2 separate regions of the Homo sapiens genome follow, and region 2 is linked to region 1. The links come from fine-mapping of genetic effects on gene expression. Tissue or cell type: whole blood. Region 1 holds a variant in brackets; the other region holds the start of a gene. All regions are shown on one strand. Distances are between the middles of the regions.

What was found. PIP is the estimated chance that this variant, and not a neighbour inherited with it, causes the effect.
Region 2: SEC22B starts here. The variant in region 1 is fine-mapped to the expression of SEC22B in whole blood (TOPMed, PIP above 0.99).

Annotation. Positions count from the first base shown.
Region 1 is chr1:120,381,603-120,389,711 of GRCh38, reverse strand. No RefSeq gene overlaps it. Among named protein-coding and RNA genes, the nearest start is that of NBPF8, 29 kb to the left of the region's middle. The variant G/T (reference allele first, on the strand shown) is at 3,542.
Region 2 is chr1:120,173,404-120,181,512 of GRCh38, reverse strand. It overlaps SEC22B (SEC22 homolog B, vesicle trafficking protein), which reads left to right and starts at 4,993. Exons shown (of 5, transcript NM_004892.6): 1 at 4,993-5,206. The coding sequence starts at 5,132. RefSeq lists enhancers at 4,832-4,961, 4,740-5,305, 5,002-5,371, 5,306-5,871.

The sequences.
Region 1 (8,109 bases):
AATCCTTAATGTAAGCCATACAGGATGCTAGCTGTACTATTAGACTATCTTCTGTAATCTGTGCAATAACTCTAAGAAGCACTTCGCATTATTATTTTCCTGTAACACTTTCCAACTTGAAGCCTAGCAAATTGAAGGACCTGGCCCCAGGTCAAACAGAAGGCAAGCGGCAGCGCCAGGACTGGAAGAAGGCCTTCCCAAAGGCAGACAGAAGCTCACGTCTTTGTCAGAACCTCGGTATTTCTGATGCGCCTGGAAGCCAATATCCAAGCCGTTCTCAGCCACTGGATTGGTGGGCTGCTTTGCTCAGAAACTCCTCGATCAGGAATCCCAAGCATACGTTAGTGATGACGGTCCCAAAACAAGGGACATTTCTTAACCATTCTAAAAACCCGTTTGCTCATCAGTAACGCAATAAGAGTTGCTTTCGGTCTTGGTTCATATATTTTATATTTGAGCAAGGCAATGTCCGCTGCTGGGGTTAGAAGTAAATGGCTCGTCTTCAGCAAACTAGATCAGTCCGTGGGACGTACGGCTTCCACTCGCAGTGTCCTGAACACTGGCTGGGCTTCCTGTGCGTTCTAGCCGGTTTTCTTTGGAGCCGCGGGTTTCTGCACGGCTCCGGGGTCGGGATGGCAGAGGCTTCTCGGAACACGCGGATCTATGAGTGCAGTCCCCGGGGTAGCCACCAGGGAACGCCATAGGCTTTCCCGCTGTGTTCCTCCTTGCCTTTTCCGTTTGGGCCCAGTAGTTTCTATTGACCATGACATTACAGATCAGAAGTGGGTGGGGTCAGAAAGCACACCCTGGGAGAAGCTGGCAAAATGCCCAGAACCGCCATCACTAGGCCTGGGGTTTTCTTCTGTAGTGGAATTCTCGTGCTTATGTAGTACAGGGAGGAGCGCAGCGCATTTCCGCCAAGACAGGTGAGACTGCAGTTCTGACCTGCGGGCCTCGATGAACTGCGTTAGGGCCCCTGGGCGCCGGCAGAGCCGATCTCCTACACAAAGCAAGCGTGTTATGTCTACAACCGAACGGGGACACTAAGAAAGAGCCCCAAAGGCCCTGCTTTCATCCCAAAGAACAGCGCCTGTCTGCGTAGTTTCTACCTTGCTCTATGAGGTGAGAACACCTTCACCGCTGGCACAGAAATCCTACAAACTCCTGTGGGGACCGCGGTTACAAGCAGACGCTGTGTGAAAGGTGACTCTGGGGGCTAGGGAAAAACACGAAGATTTTCACAGAGCGTGAGACCCCAAGAGACTGGAGACCATGGACCAAATTTCTGCGAACAGTAGCCTTATGTAGAAAGAGCTATGCAATCTTCGTGCTAGTTAGCTTGTGATACACATGCTCACAAAGGCTGGCGCTTCCTTCTCCAGCGAAAAGCAAGGCGATATATCACTTCCCGATTCAAAGCATCCAACTGTAAGAATAACAGTGTAGGGAGAAAGGTCTATAGTCATGGCAATATTGCCTAATGATATTTTTTTCTGTGATGGTCATTTTATAATATTATTTAAAAGTTTTTTTTAATTAAACAAGCAATGGAACTTTGAACAGAAAAATATGAAATTAAAACAATAAAAATTACCCATAATCACACTAGACTGTGATAACTAAACTGTGAATATTTTGGTTTCATAAGCTTTTAATCTTTTTCCTTAGGTATATAAAAATATTTAAGAACCAAAGAAAATTATATCACAATGGGTATATCAACTTAGTATCAGTTTTACTCATTTAATATGCCAAAGGTAACCTACTTATCCTTTGACTATAAGAGCTTTCTAAATGTCTGTATAATATTACATCAGATGAATGCAATATAATTTATTTTAAATATTTCTTTTTTTGTTGTTTTTTTTTTTTTTTTTTTTTTTTTGAGACGGAGTCTCGCTGTCGCCCAGGCTGGAGTGCAGTGGCGGGATCTCGGCTCACTGCAAGCTCCGCCTCCTGGGTTCACGCCATTCTCCTGCCTCAGCCTCCCAAGTAGCTGGGACTACAGGCGCCCGCCACTACGCCCGGCTAATTTTTTGTATTTTTAGTAGAGACGGGGTTTCACCGTTTTAGCCGGGATGGTCTCGATCTCCTGACCTCGTGATCCGCCCGCCTCGGCCTCCCAAAGTGCTGGGATTACAGGCGTGAGCCACCGCGCCCGGCCTAAATATTTCTTATTGCATATTTAGATTGTTTCTAATTTTTGAGTATGATCAACAACTCTTTGACCAGTATTCCTATAGCTAAGTGCTTATGTTGTAGGTCTGATTATTTCCTTAGTACAAATTTCTAACAGTGGAGTGTCAGTCAAAGGGTATGTACAATGTAAACATGTAGATGTGTATTGTCAAATTATCCCCCACCAAGTTCCTAAAATATGCATCTTTACTGTCATGGTGTAACTACCAAAGTCCTGTACCCTTGAAAACATAGATTCTTATTTCAGAACATCTTTATCAGTTTAAAAGATAAACTATGCCATCCTCTTGTTGTTAGTAAAGTGCATTTCTTTGATTACTCCCCTTTTACAGAAGAGTAAATGAAGATTCAGTAAGTTTGTGTGAGTTATGCATGGGTGCATAGGTAACGCGTGCAGAAAGCAATCACTTCAGTTTTCCATATTTGAGGTCCTCTCTGGGCCAGTACAGTTCGAGACACTAGAAATTCAAAACCACAGATAATGCCCTCCTGGGCCTGTAGGATGTACTTGTTAGGTGGCAGGGGCGAGGCCCAACCAGTGTGCACAACAATGTCATAGCCCCAGGTGAGTGTGGGAGGGGAAGTTGTAGAAATATTTTCCAGCCAAATAAATCAGTGAAGTAAAGATAGGCAGGAGGCAGGCAAAAAGGAGGCAGGACTGGCAGGTTGTGGGGGCAGGAGTGGCCACGGATGAGGAGCCAGGCTTGGCTACACAGGTGCAGGTGGCACGTGTCATAGGCACAGGCATGGAGATCTGAGGGCGTAGAGGGGAGAAGACCATGCACCGCCAATGTCAACTGTGTGGAAGCAAACCTGGGCTACATCTAAGAGTCCTGAGAGCAGGGGAGGAGAAGGGAGGAAGAGACAACAGAAGTCCTGGGTGGGAAGCAGAAATATTTCCTGAGTCAATGAAAGAGCCCCAAGCCTCCAGACCTGCCAGGGCTCAAGCAGGCAGCTCCAGATGCCAAGACCTATAATCCAGCAGTTCAGGTTGATTTTGCCAGAGTAGTGTGAAGAGGCCCTGATTTTCCCCTTTAATGTATACCCATACAAAAGGCAGAAGAGTTGTTTGAAAAGCAGGAGATTCACAGTTACAAGCACATAGGAAGCACAAGAAAAACTGGTAGAAGGGATCTGGGCCCTTCAATGTTGACAGCCTTCTCTAGGAGCCCTGGCTACAACAGAATGAGAAGGATCCTTGTGGGGTATAAAAAGGTGGGAAGGAGAACAAGCCAAACAAAACACCACCCTCAGGACTACAGAGAAGTTATTTCAGGCGATGCATTGATTCCATGTTTTTGTTTCCATAGGTTGCTGTTTTGTAACTTTTTTTTTCTTTGGT[G/T]AAGGAATTAAGTGTCCTCCCCCACTGTCTGAAGAAAGTTATGCCTGTCATGAAGCGTGCCCTTACTTACTTTGAAGGGGACAAGCCTTTTCTAGCTTCAATATTTATTTCCTATTTTGATGGGGAAACCTTTAGGGAAGTAGAAAGAGAGCTTAAAGCCTTGGGGGAGACATTTTACGTGCTTGCTAAAAAAATGCATTAAAATATTTAGTACATGTCCTGAATGTAACCCAGCCCTCCAGAGCTATTTTTTTCTCACTGTATTAGTCCATTTTCATACTGTAATAAAGAACTGCCTGAGACTGGGTAATTTATAAAAGAAAGAGATTTAATTGACTCACAGTTCAGCATGGCTGGGGAGGCCTCAGGAAACTTACAATCATGGTGGAAGGTGAAGGGGAAGCAAGGCACCTTCTACACAAGGTGGCAGAAAGGAGAAGTGCTAAGCAAAGGGGAAGAAGCCCCTTATAAAACCATCCGATCTTGGGAGAACTCACTCACTATCATGAGAACAGCATGGGGGAAACCATCCCCATGATTCAATTACCTCCACCTGGTCTCTCCTTTGACAAATAGGGATTATGGGGATTATGGGGATTACAATTCAAGATGAGATCTGGGTGGGGACGCGAAGCCTAACCATATCAGGGGAGGGGGCTCACAACTGAATATTTCAGATAATTTTAATATGTGCTGGTATCCACAAACAAGAGCCAACGTGGACTCAGCAGGAAATGTCATGGGCCTTCTGTTTCAAAAATGATTCAGATAGACTTTTATGCTTTTACATGTGCCATATGGGAGTGGGGCATTCTCATCTTGTTCCTTGTTTTACCCTCAGCATCTACCTTTCATAGCAGTAACTGATGATCATGAAATGTTTGTTGATTGAATGGCTGAAGTATAGACAGATGCAGCTTCTGTCCATGAAAGGCATCCTGCTTGCTCCTTGCACTGTGTCCAGTGAAAACTCTTGTTTCTCTGCGCAGCTGCAACACGTTTCACATCACAAGGAGCACAAGGCACTGGCTTCCATTTCCACCCTGAAGCTCAGCAGCCCCATTTGCGTCCCATCAGCTGCCTGCTCCGGAATAGAGGAGGGAAGGGCTGGGCTTCAGAGTTTGCTTTTTTTTCTTGGTTCTGTGAATGGAAAAGGATCCTGTGAAGGGATCCAGATTGATACCTTGGGGTCTGGTGTATGTAGGTCTGTTTGTGTTAACTCACCATTTAAAGACAGAAAAAAGGAAAACATACATATTTATAGCCTCCTAGAGAGAGCCTTGGTGCTAGTTTTGATGGCTTGCTGGGAACACAAGTGAAGTCAAGGGGGGTATTGTGGTTGGGAGCATTGATTTTGGGAGGAAAGTGGTGCTGGTATCATTTAGGGAGGGACAACAAGATGCTCCTGTGGACCACCACTGATTCTCTCACGCTGATGACATCTGGCAGTAGTGACAATGTGATGGGAGCCCAAAGAGGGGAGGGTCTTGTAGAAATTTCACGTGGTTGCATCAACTTCAGCTTTTGGTAACTGGTGGATAGCCAAGCAGCAGGAGTAGGGCAGAATACCATGAGTCCGTGAACCAGGCAGAGAGTTGAATGACATGAACTTGAGTCAGGGAGGAGAAAACTAGGGGCCGGGCACATCTTTGATTAGTGAGTAACCAACAAGGTGGACCCCCAGAGGGCTTAAGGCCCTTCGCTGGAGAACTAGATGGTTATCCCTGGGTCCTGTTATTGAGGCTAGCTTCTCTCAAGTTTCAACGCTAGTCAGACCACCATATCTAAATCATGGAAAGTGTACCACTGGTTATGTTAAGAGGTGATGTTTGAATATTTAGATGGAGATAATCAAAGTATTACAAAAATGACAAAGGATTCAATGCAGTAAACAAGTTAATTTACACACCAGAGTCAAAATTTCACAAATATTATTGCATAGAGTGAAGATAATTTTTTAAAATTTAAATTAATTTAACAAAATAAACATAGTACTTAAATGTGGCTTTTTTGGTTAGATTATTTTCTTATTCAAGATTTTTCCTTTCCTAGTTTATAAGTATTTTGTTGCTATTCTTTCACTCTCTGAAAATTGCAAAATGCATACTTAACTTTTCAAATACAAGTTTTTCCAAAAATTGTATACATCTCCTGAAAATGAGTGCCTTTGAAGATGGCAACTCCATTTCTGCTCCCTCTAATTCATGAGTTATTCTTGACTTGTTTTGTGGAATTAATTAGTTTCATCTTTTTCTTAATGGCAAAAACTACTTGTCATGATTTTTGCATGTTTCCTACCTTCTTGATCCTCATCTTTTTCTCTGATTTAATTACATCCTTTTCTGAGGATATGCTGCAGATAAACTCTCTTTTTTTGTTTGCCCAAGAATGTCTGCATTTCATCCTACTCTTAAAAAGTGGGTCCTAGAAATTCTAGATTGGCAATTATTTTTTATTAGCACTTTGGTGATCTGATTCTTCTGGCATCCGTCTTTCATCATTTCTGTTGAGTAGTTAGTGGTCAATGCCATTCTGCTGCCTTGAAAGTAAGCTGTTTTATTCACTACCTTGTGGATTTATGCATGTGTGTGGTTGTTCTTTGGTTTTACTATTGTTTTTGGTTCGTCCAACTCGCCATGACATGTTCAAGTGTAGTTTTATGTTTGTGTACCCTCTATAGATTTAGGAACTTCCCGTTGGCTTTCTTTTGATGTAGGGTATCAGTCATTATCTTAAAATATTACTTACAAAGGTTTTCTCTGTTCTATGTTCTTTCTCCTCTTTGTTTAGGAATCCAAGTAAAAATATGGTAAAATGTCTCACTGCCTCTGTTTTGCTGTGATGCATTCTGCATAATTTCTTCTGACTGATCTTTGGATTCACTAGTACCTACTTTAGCTACTACAAAATAGTGAACAGCCATTGCATTTAAAAATTTATTTTTTGCATCTTTCTATTTTAGAAATGTTCTTTGTTTCCTTTTTCACACATTCCAGTCATTTAAAAAATATTTATTTTATTTTAGATTCAAGGGGTCCATGTGAATGTTTGTTAAATGGGTATATTGCATACTGGTGGGGATTGGGCTTCTAGTTCACCCATTACCCAAATAATGAATATTGTACCTAATAGGTAGTTTTTCAACACTCACATCCTCTCCCCTTTGGGAAACCTCAGTGTCTATTATTTCCATCTTTATGTCCATGTGTACCAATTGTTTAGCTTCCACTTGTAGGTGAGAATATGCAGTATTTTATTTTCTGTTTCTGAGTTAATTCACTTAGAATAATGTTCTACACCTCCATCCATGTTGCTTCAAAGGACATGATTTCATTCTTTTTTATGGTGGTGTAGTATTACATGATGTGTATATATATCACATTTTCTTTATCCAATCAATTATTGATGGACCCATAGGTTAGACTTAGGTTGGTTCCGTGACTTTGCTATTGTCATGGTATTGTCCTATAATGATTTGTTTTCCTTTGGGTAGGTGTCCAGTTATGAATATTTCTGGGTCAAAGGGTAGTTCTGTTTTCAGTTCTTTGAGATATCTTCATACTGTTTTCCATAGAGCTTGAACTAATTTATATTCCCACCAATAGTGTATAAGCGTTCTCTCTTTGCTCTGCATCCAAGTCAACCTCTGTTTTTTTCTTTTTTCAACTTTTTAATAACAGCCATTCTGACTGATATAAGATGATATCTCATTGTGGTTTTAATGAGCATTTCTTTAATGATTAGTGATTCTGAGCATTTTTTCATGTGTTTGTTGGCTGCTTGCATTTTTTTTTTTTTTGAAAAATGTCTGTTCATGTCCTTTGCCCAGTTTTTAATGGGGTTGTTTCTTTTTCTCTTCTTGAATTCTTTGAGGTCCTTGTAGATTCTTGATATTAGTCCTTTGTCAGAGACATATTTTGCAATTCTGTTTTTTTTTTTTTCAAGCATGGCAAGAAAGATTTTATTCAGGACCAGAGCAATAGTTACAGGGACCACTGAAATGTTGTCTGACAGTGGGGAAGAGAGATTCTATGCTGGTCATTTTTAACAGCTTTCTTTTATTATTATTGTTATTATTATTATTATTATACTTTAAGTTCTAGGGTACATGTGCACAACGTGCAGATTTGTTACATATGTATACATGTGCCATGTTGTCGTGCTGCACCCATTAACTTGTCATTTACATTAGGTATATCTCCTAATGGTATCCCTCCCCCCTCCCCCTACCCAACGACAGCTCGTGGTGTGTGATGTTCCCCTTTCTGTGTCCAAGTGTTCTCATTGTTCAGTACCCACCTATGAGTAAGAACATGCCGTGTTTGGTTTTCTGTCCTTGCGATAGTTTGCTGAGAATGATGGTTTCCAGCTTCATCTATGTCCCTACAAAGGACATGAACTCATCCTTTTTTATGGCTGCATATTTGACAGCTTTCTTTTGCTGAGATTGTTTCAAGTGTGTTCTAGCTTTGGACGTTATGAGAAGAGTTGTTTTACAACATTTTTCTCTGATTATTTTTAAATCTAGGGTCTTTGTAGAACTGTTTCTTTCTCCACTATTTCTTCTA
Region 2 (8,109 bases), 210 kb after region 1:
TGACTGGCTAATAATTTAAAACTTTTCTAAATAGGTAAAAGCAATGGAAAGACAAAGGAAAAGAGGAAGTTGCTTATGAAAGGACTTAGAAAAGTAATAATATTCCTGAATAAGGAAGGGGCATAGGCTGTGAGCTGAGACATGCCCGTCAGCACCTCCAGCACAAATATTTTGGTTAAAGTACAAGGACATAGAATGTACTTATTCCTTTATGTCTAATAGCTACATAGGATAGGGCTTAACAGAGAGTTAATAGCACAAAGCAAGGAGGATTGAAGGAAGTTAGTCTTTAAAAGAAACTATTATTTCTAACACTTATGATTTATTCTTTAACAAGAAGGGAAACTCTGAAGAGGAAACTTTTTACTTTCTACACCCAATTATCCTACTCACCGCACACATCCCAAGCTCCAAGGCGTGAACCAGCTGGGCCTGCTCTCTGCTAGGCTTTCCTGACAAAGTAGGGAAACCAGACAGACATGTTGGAAGAAGTATTACGGTTTCATGAAATAGCTTCTTCTAGAAGGCAAGAGATAGCTTTGCTGTGGCTTGATATTTGAAATAGGCTATTTAAAGTCATAATTTTTTTTTTTTTTTTTGAGACGGAGTCTTGCTCTGTCACCCAGGTTAGGGTGCAGTGGCGCGCAATCTCGTCTCACAGCAACCTCCGCCCCCTGGGTTCTAGCAATTCTACTGCCTCAGCCTCCCTAGTGTCTAGGATTACAGGCGCCCACCACCACACCTGGTTAATTTTTGTATTTTTAGTAGAGACGGGGTTTTGTCATTTTGGCCAGGCTGGTCTCGAACTCCTGACCTCAAGTGATCCACCCGCCTCGGCCTTCCGGAGTGCAGGGATTACAGGCGTGAGCCACTGCGCCCGGCCAAAGTCGTAATTATTTTAAACAGAGGCTTTCACGGGACTTCCAAAGCGCACCTTGTTCTTTCCGGCTCATTCCCCCTTCCCCTCTAACCCTTCACTTTCACTTCTCTGACTGGATGCACTGTGCGGAGGACACAGCTAAGGGCTGTGAAAATTCAAGAATAAAGAAAAGTCCTGCCTTCACGCAGCTCGCACTGTGAGGAGGTTTAATCAGGGATGGTAATTCAAAATAACTCGTGTTTAATCACCAGTGCAGATGGTGTCAGTAAACCTGCCTGGGGCGCTGCTTCCCAACCCCCGCCAGGGCCTGCGCCCTGCAGCCCACCGGAGGCGTGGCCGGAGGGCAGGCGCCAGGGCGGAAGGCGGGGGTCGTTCTAATTCCCTGGGGGTAGCTAATGGCCATGCCTGGAGGCGAAGCTTTTCAAAATGACTAACTTGGAAAACCGCCAAAGACAATGGAATCTGGCAGAACTGTGGGGAGCAGGAATCTTAAGCGTTTGCATGTTGTTGGGGTAGCAGGGGCTCAAGAAGGGGATGCTCAGGGCAATAGCTTTTTTACTAATCTGTAAGAAAATGTTCCAGTATTTTAATAGCTGGTACAGCCATACTGATGCATACAGTCCAGATCGATAGATATTGGTCCAGATACAGTGGCTATCTGTTCTTTTGCCTTCCAGGAGCACAGTTTCTCAGAAGAAATGTTTTTTCCATGTATATAATCATGTAATTCAAACAGGAGCTGCAGTTTACTTGCAGACCTCCTAAGTGACAGTGTTTGGTCTGGGGGTAGATACGGGCCACAAGTTGCTGGGACTATTCTTTATTCGTCCTCATTACTTAGCTTAGTGTCTGGTATAGAATTAGGCACTCGATAGAATTGTTTAAGAATGAATGGACACAAACCTTTAACTATTGCTTCGTTTGATCTCACTTGTAAAATTTCTGCAACTGTGTGACTGCTGTAATGGAAAGTCTTATCCTGTTTAGGCAGCTTAATATAAGTTGGTTTAGATATGTGCATTTCACGATTTCTTTGATAAGTTTCAAGAATTTGCTGGCAGCTGTAACTATGACGTTCAAGGCTTATGTTTACTTTTTTTTTTTTTCCTAGTACAACATTTACAAACTCCAAGAATTTTATCCATTTCAGAGGTGGTTGTCAGATTTAGGGCAAAGGACATATGTGGGCTTTATAAATTTTAAAGTTCGGTACAAATGTTTGTTGATACTCTTGTTTAATTAAATGTAAAATAGTTGAGAACCTTCCATGTACTTACTGATCACAGTGTTAACCATTATTACACAGTACTGTATTGCTCCAAGAATCAAAGGGCAGCAGCTCAAAGACAACACTTGGATGTGAATGAGATGAAGCTGATCAAGTCAGAAGGAAAAGGAATTCAGATGCCAGAGCTCCCAAGGTCTGAATAGTGGGCAGTTTCAAGACAACTCTAGTTTTCTCCTGATGGCTGAAATTATTAGCAGCCTAAGATCACTATCCTTTTCCTGGAATCAATGTGTTCGAAGGGTGCCAGAGTCATCTAGTGTGTTTACAAAGGATAAAAGTAAGAGGTGTGAGTATGAATGTTGTTGTTCCAAGAAATAATTGCTCCAGGGTGACTCCATGCTTTTATTAGTTTGCGTGTGTGTGTGTGTGTGTGTGTGTGTGTGTGTTTTGGTTTTTAAGTAACAAACTAACTCAAAGTAGCCTAAGCAGGATAAAGAGGGAATTTGTTATAAAGAAGCAATAGTGTTTGATAGAACCCAATGGCAGGAATGTGTATGGGCCTTGGGAGGAGCCTAGAGTCAGGAACTGAAAAAAGATGTGGATTCTTGCTCCGAATTTGCTTCTCGGCACACACCTGCATTCTTCTCTCTCTGCTTCTCTAATCAACATGGCAGTCTGTATCCTTAGTTAAAATATTTGTAGCATTAATTCCCCATTACTCAAATGACCATCATTTGAGGCTGTGGAGAAGGCATGTCCTTGTTGAGTGGAAGGAAGGGAAATTAGAACAACTTATATCTATGGGCTATTTTAAATGTAAGGTACTATGATTCTACCAACTTAGACTCCCATATACACAAGGATTCACTTCCATTCCACTTTCTGTCTCTGTTAATAGCACAATTTTTTTTGTCTTATTTATTGTAGTCCTTCATCTTTCATGTGGAGTCAATCACTAGGTCTTATTGGGTTTTGGTCTCAAAAGTCTATCATTAAATAATATTACTTTTCTTAGCAGCATAATTCACAATTGCAAAGATGTGGAACCAACCTAAGTGCCTGTCAACTAATGAGTGGATAAAGAAAATGTGATACACACACACACACACACACACACACACACCATGGAATACTACCCAGCCATAAAAAGGAGTGAAATAATGTCTTTTGCAGTAACTTGGATGGAGCTGGAGGCCATTATTCTAAGTGAAGTAACTCAGGAGTGGAAAACCAAAAACCGTATGTTCTCACTTAAGTGTGAGCTAAGCTATGAGTACACAAAGGTATACAGAGTGATATAATGGACTTTAGAGACTTAGAAGGCGGAGGGTGGGAAGGGACCTAGGGTTAAAAAACTACTTATTAAGTAAAATGTACGCAACTCAGGTGATGGGTGCACTAAAATCTCAGCTTTCACCACTATATAATTCATCTATGTAACAAAAACCCACTTGTAACCCAAAAGCTATTGAAATAAGAATCTTTTTAATAAAGAAAATGCCACACAAAAATAATATTGGTTTTCTTCTAATCCTGAAGGCCAATATAAAAGGTAACAAAAGCCTGAGCTCTTTAATTAATGGGTACAAGTTAAGACAGAATCACATCAGGATTTGAAGTTGAACCTGAGCTCAAATCCTGTTCCCATCACTGCTAGCTCTCTGAGGCTTTCCTCTCAACTACAAAGTGGAGATATAATACTAAACAAGCTTACTGGGTTGCTTAACTAATATCTAGAACATACTTAACAGTGTTTCTATTAATGCGAGAACTAACTGTAAGCACTTAGTAAAGAGTAGTCATTATTAAGCAATGATAAATAAAAGCATTTGTATAATTCTTTTTTTAGCTTTTGAAAGCCTTGCACCTAGATTTTCTCATCTAATATTCATTAAAACCCTGAAAGGCCGATCATATCCCCACTTTAGAGATGGGGACACCAAAAAACAAAGAGATGGGAACACCTAGATATATCAGAGATCCTAGTTTTTATTTTATTTATTTATTTATTTATTTTTTTTTTTTGAGACAGAGTGTCGCTCTGTTGCCCAAGCTGGAGTACAGTGACGCAACCTCGGTTCACTGCAAGCTCCGCCTCCCGGGTTCACGCCATTCTGCCTCAGCCTCCCGAGTGAGTAGCTGGGACCACAGGCGTCCGCCACCGCGCCCGGCTAATTTTTTTGTGTTTTTTTAGTAGAGACGGGGTTTCACCATGTTAGCCAGGATGGTCTCGATCTCCTGACCTCGTGATCCGCCCGCCTCGGCCTCCCATAGTGCTTGGATTACAGGCGTGAGCCACCGCGCCCGGCCTGATCCTAGCTTTTTGTAGGTGACTGACCTAGGTGGTACAAGATGTCCTGTACTTGTTCATTTATTCACACATACAACACATATTTATTGACTTCTTACCATAAACTGTTTAAGGAGCCTGGTGGGGATACCGCATAAACAAACAAGCAAAAATAGACAAAAATCTTTGTCTAGAAATATATAAATATAGAACATTTTATAGAATATATGACATAGAAAACAGAAAAAAATAAATATGAAAATAGCCTAATTTTCAGGGTTTTCCTTTTTTTACATACCCTTCATGGTTAACGGTTAGTGGTTAATGGGGATTACCCATTAACTCCCACCCTCCTTCCCAGCTCTCTCCCAAGACTTAGTTTCAGGAACTAGAAAATTCTGATTCAGCTTGGGTGCAATGGCCGCTCAAAGGGCGAGGCTTATTCGAAGCCTCAAATTCAGAAAACCCAGCCAGACCTTGGAAGTTAAGAAGGTGGAAGGCAGATCGCGGAACCAGTGTTCTGATAGTTGTGGTTCTCTGAGGGAAGCCAATTCTGGGGACCGGTAGTGGAAAGCTCTTGCGCTGTTTCCGGCCACCTCAGCGGGAAGCGGAGACGCAAGCAGCTGGATCTCCGGTAACTGAGACATAGGGTATAACTGTTGTCGCGGCGGAGGAAGTGAGGACGGCGCCAAGGGCCTTCCGGGCCAGTGTTGGATCCCTGTAGTTTGTGAAGATGGTGTTGCTAACAATGATCGCCCGAGTGGCGGACGGGCTCCCGCTGGCCGCCTCGATGCAGGAGGACGAACAGGTGAGCTGCTTACTCACGACCCGCGACCCCAAGTCTCTGTCAGCGCGCTTTGCCCTCAGCATCGGATTCCTTCCTAGGACCGGGAGACCTTTGTGACTTCCCGGGCACTCCCGACCTCTCTGAAGTGCGCTTTTATCTTTTGGTGTAGGAGAGACTACCGGCGAAGAGGAAATCTTTCCTGAAGGAGGAGTTAAGTTTTTTGTGTTAGCTGTTTCTCTTTAGAAAAACGCTCTGGAGAAGTGGTAGCTTTGGTTGATTGTGATCACCCAGTGTTCTTTGACTCTTTAGGGACTTTGTTAAAATTCAGGATTTCTAATTTTCTGCTGCTAATAGGACTGCTGATGGATAAATCCTGGGAAAAAATCAGCCAAGTTCTTCAAGTCTATAACGTGGCACCTGATCCTTGACCTAGCTTGCTGACATCTTTTGAAAGTGGGTGAGGTAATATTGCCACATAAAAGCACCTGTTAAATTTCAGTACATCACATTCTTTCAGGATTATCCCCAGTTCCCACCTTCTCCAATACGCCGTACCACATTCCTGCAATACATTGTAACTTATTTTTTTCTTTGTCTTTCAATAACTTGAGTTTCCTAGCGGGCAAACGACGGGTCTTAATCATCTCTTTGTTATCCATACCTTTTACAATAGCTGCTTTATGCTAGTAGGTGCTCAAAAGTATACTGAATTGATTAAAAACAGCACTAACTCCAGATGTCTTAAAAGAAAGATGTTTTGTGTTTTAGAAACACAGTGGAAATTTCTGAAGTAAGACAAGTTTCTGGAGCAAGCTTGGGAGGTTCTGAAGACAAAGCTGAGAATGGAATTTATATAATTTGTTTAAAGTGATCAATTTTATTTTACTTTTCCATACAGTCTAAGTAAAACCTTGAGCCTTAAAAAAAGATGAGATATTGAAAAAATAGTTTGCACATTTCTTCTGTTGGACTTTTCATTCATATATTAATGCAAAAAATTTTTACTGAGCACATCAAATGTGCCAGGCATAGTGTTAATGCAGGGAGTTAGAGTACACAGTCTCTACCTTTGTGGAGCTTACAGTCTAGTGGAAAAATCAGATAACCAACAAACTATTAAAATGTAGTTTAACTGCTAAGGAGAAGGAAGAGGGTTTTGTGCTTGAACATGGAAAATATATCTAAGTTGGTTTTAGGAAATCAGGAAAGTCTTCCCAGAAGGTATGACACTAAGGTAACAGTAGGATCCAGTAGTAAGGAACTATTATTCTATTTGGTTATATGCCTTTTTAGGTTTGATTTGGAAATATAGTTACTTTCACTTTTAGGAGAGTGGTGATACAGATAATAAAGTTGCAGGTCATGCTAAGTGAAATATATTCTATTCATTACATAAAAACAAAGTCTAATCTTTGAAATAAACCGTGAACAATTTAACATACCCCGATTTGCTAATGTGAAATGTTTTTCAGGAATACTCTAGGACCATCCTGCAGAAGGAGTGTAATTGTTCAAATGAACCTAGGAATATGATTTGAACAAAGTAGATAGTGCAGGGGAATATCCTTGAAGGATGTGTAGTTTGACTAAAAAATAGTTTTCCTACAGTGGGTGGCTGTGTGTTGGGGGTAGGGGGGATGGAATCTGGTCAATTTTTAAATTATTGCATTGAATTCCAGTGTTAGCAAAGAATACAAAGTGAACTTGAAAGTCTACTTAATATTAGTGGCCCCTACTCTCTGCCATGATACTTTATTGAAAAATTAATTGATTTATTGTTTTTTAATTATAAATTTGGTATTGGTTTCATATTGGTTTATCAAGATGGGATGCTTTGTTTAATTGACAAGGAAAGAAATTTTACACACAAATATTTTTGTGATTGTAGTGCCATAGTATTTTCCTTTAGGAATTTTGACTTTGAATAATAAAGTTTGCCTAAACTTTTAATGTCTGTAAAGATCTGAATCTTAGGCTTACTTTTACTATTTTAATAGTATACAGAACATTTATAAAAGCGCCTACTACATACCAAACACTGTGCTAAGCCTATTAAGTTCATTTTTTTATTTAATCCTCATACTACCATATTAGAACAGGTACTATTAAAATCTCCAATAATAGATAAGGAAGCTCTGAGGCTTAGAGAGGATAGATCACTTGCCTAAATTCACAGCTAATGAGTGGCATAATGAAATTTTTCATCAGGGTTTTTCCCCTTGGCACTGTTGACATTTGGGGATGGATAATTATTTGTTCTTGGGGACTGTTCTGTATATTGTGTAGGAGGTCCAGCAATATTCCTGGCCTCTACCCTCTAGATGCCAGTAGTACCACTACCCTTCCCCACTTTGTTTGTTTGTATGACGACAAAAATATTTCTAGACATTGCTAAATGTCTCATGGGGGCAAAATCACCCCAATTGAGACCCAGTGGTTTTTATTAAGTTTTTGTCGACTCAGACAAAAACTTAATAACCACTGTACTTTAGTGCCTAACCACTGTACTTTACTGCCTTGTTCTAAGGCCTTTTAATGATGTCTTACCTCTTAGGAGTCCAGGAATAACTTTTTAATAAACAGATATCTCAACCAAACAGTTTTATATTTAATCACCTTAATTGTCCAGGCCAGATAATTCAATGTATTTTCATTTTTGTATGTTTTTGTTTTCTTATCAGTGTACTTTCAGTATTTACACTGATAATAGATATCATATTTTAGGTATTTACTAGGTGCCTGTACAAGCTGCCATATTACCGAAGATGGACAGTTATTCAGATAATACAATAGAGAGTAAAATTTACAAAATAATGTAGACAGAGTATTTTATACAGGGTGTTTCCTCTGTGTTTAACTGAAAATTTAGACTTAGGGCAGGAAGAGAGATGAGCTTTTCTTCTCAAATGTGGACTCCCTAACTG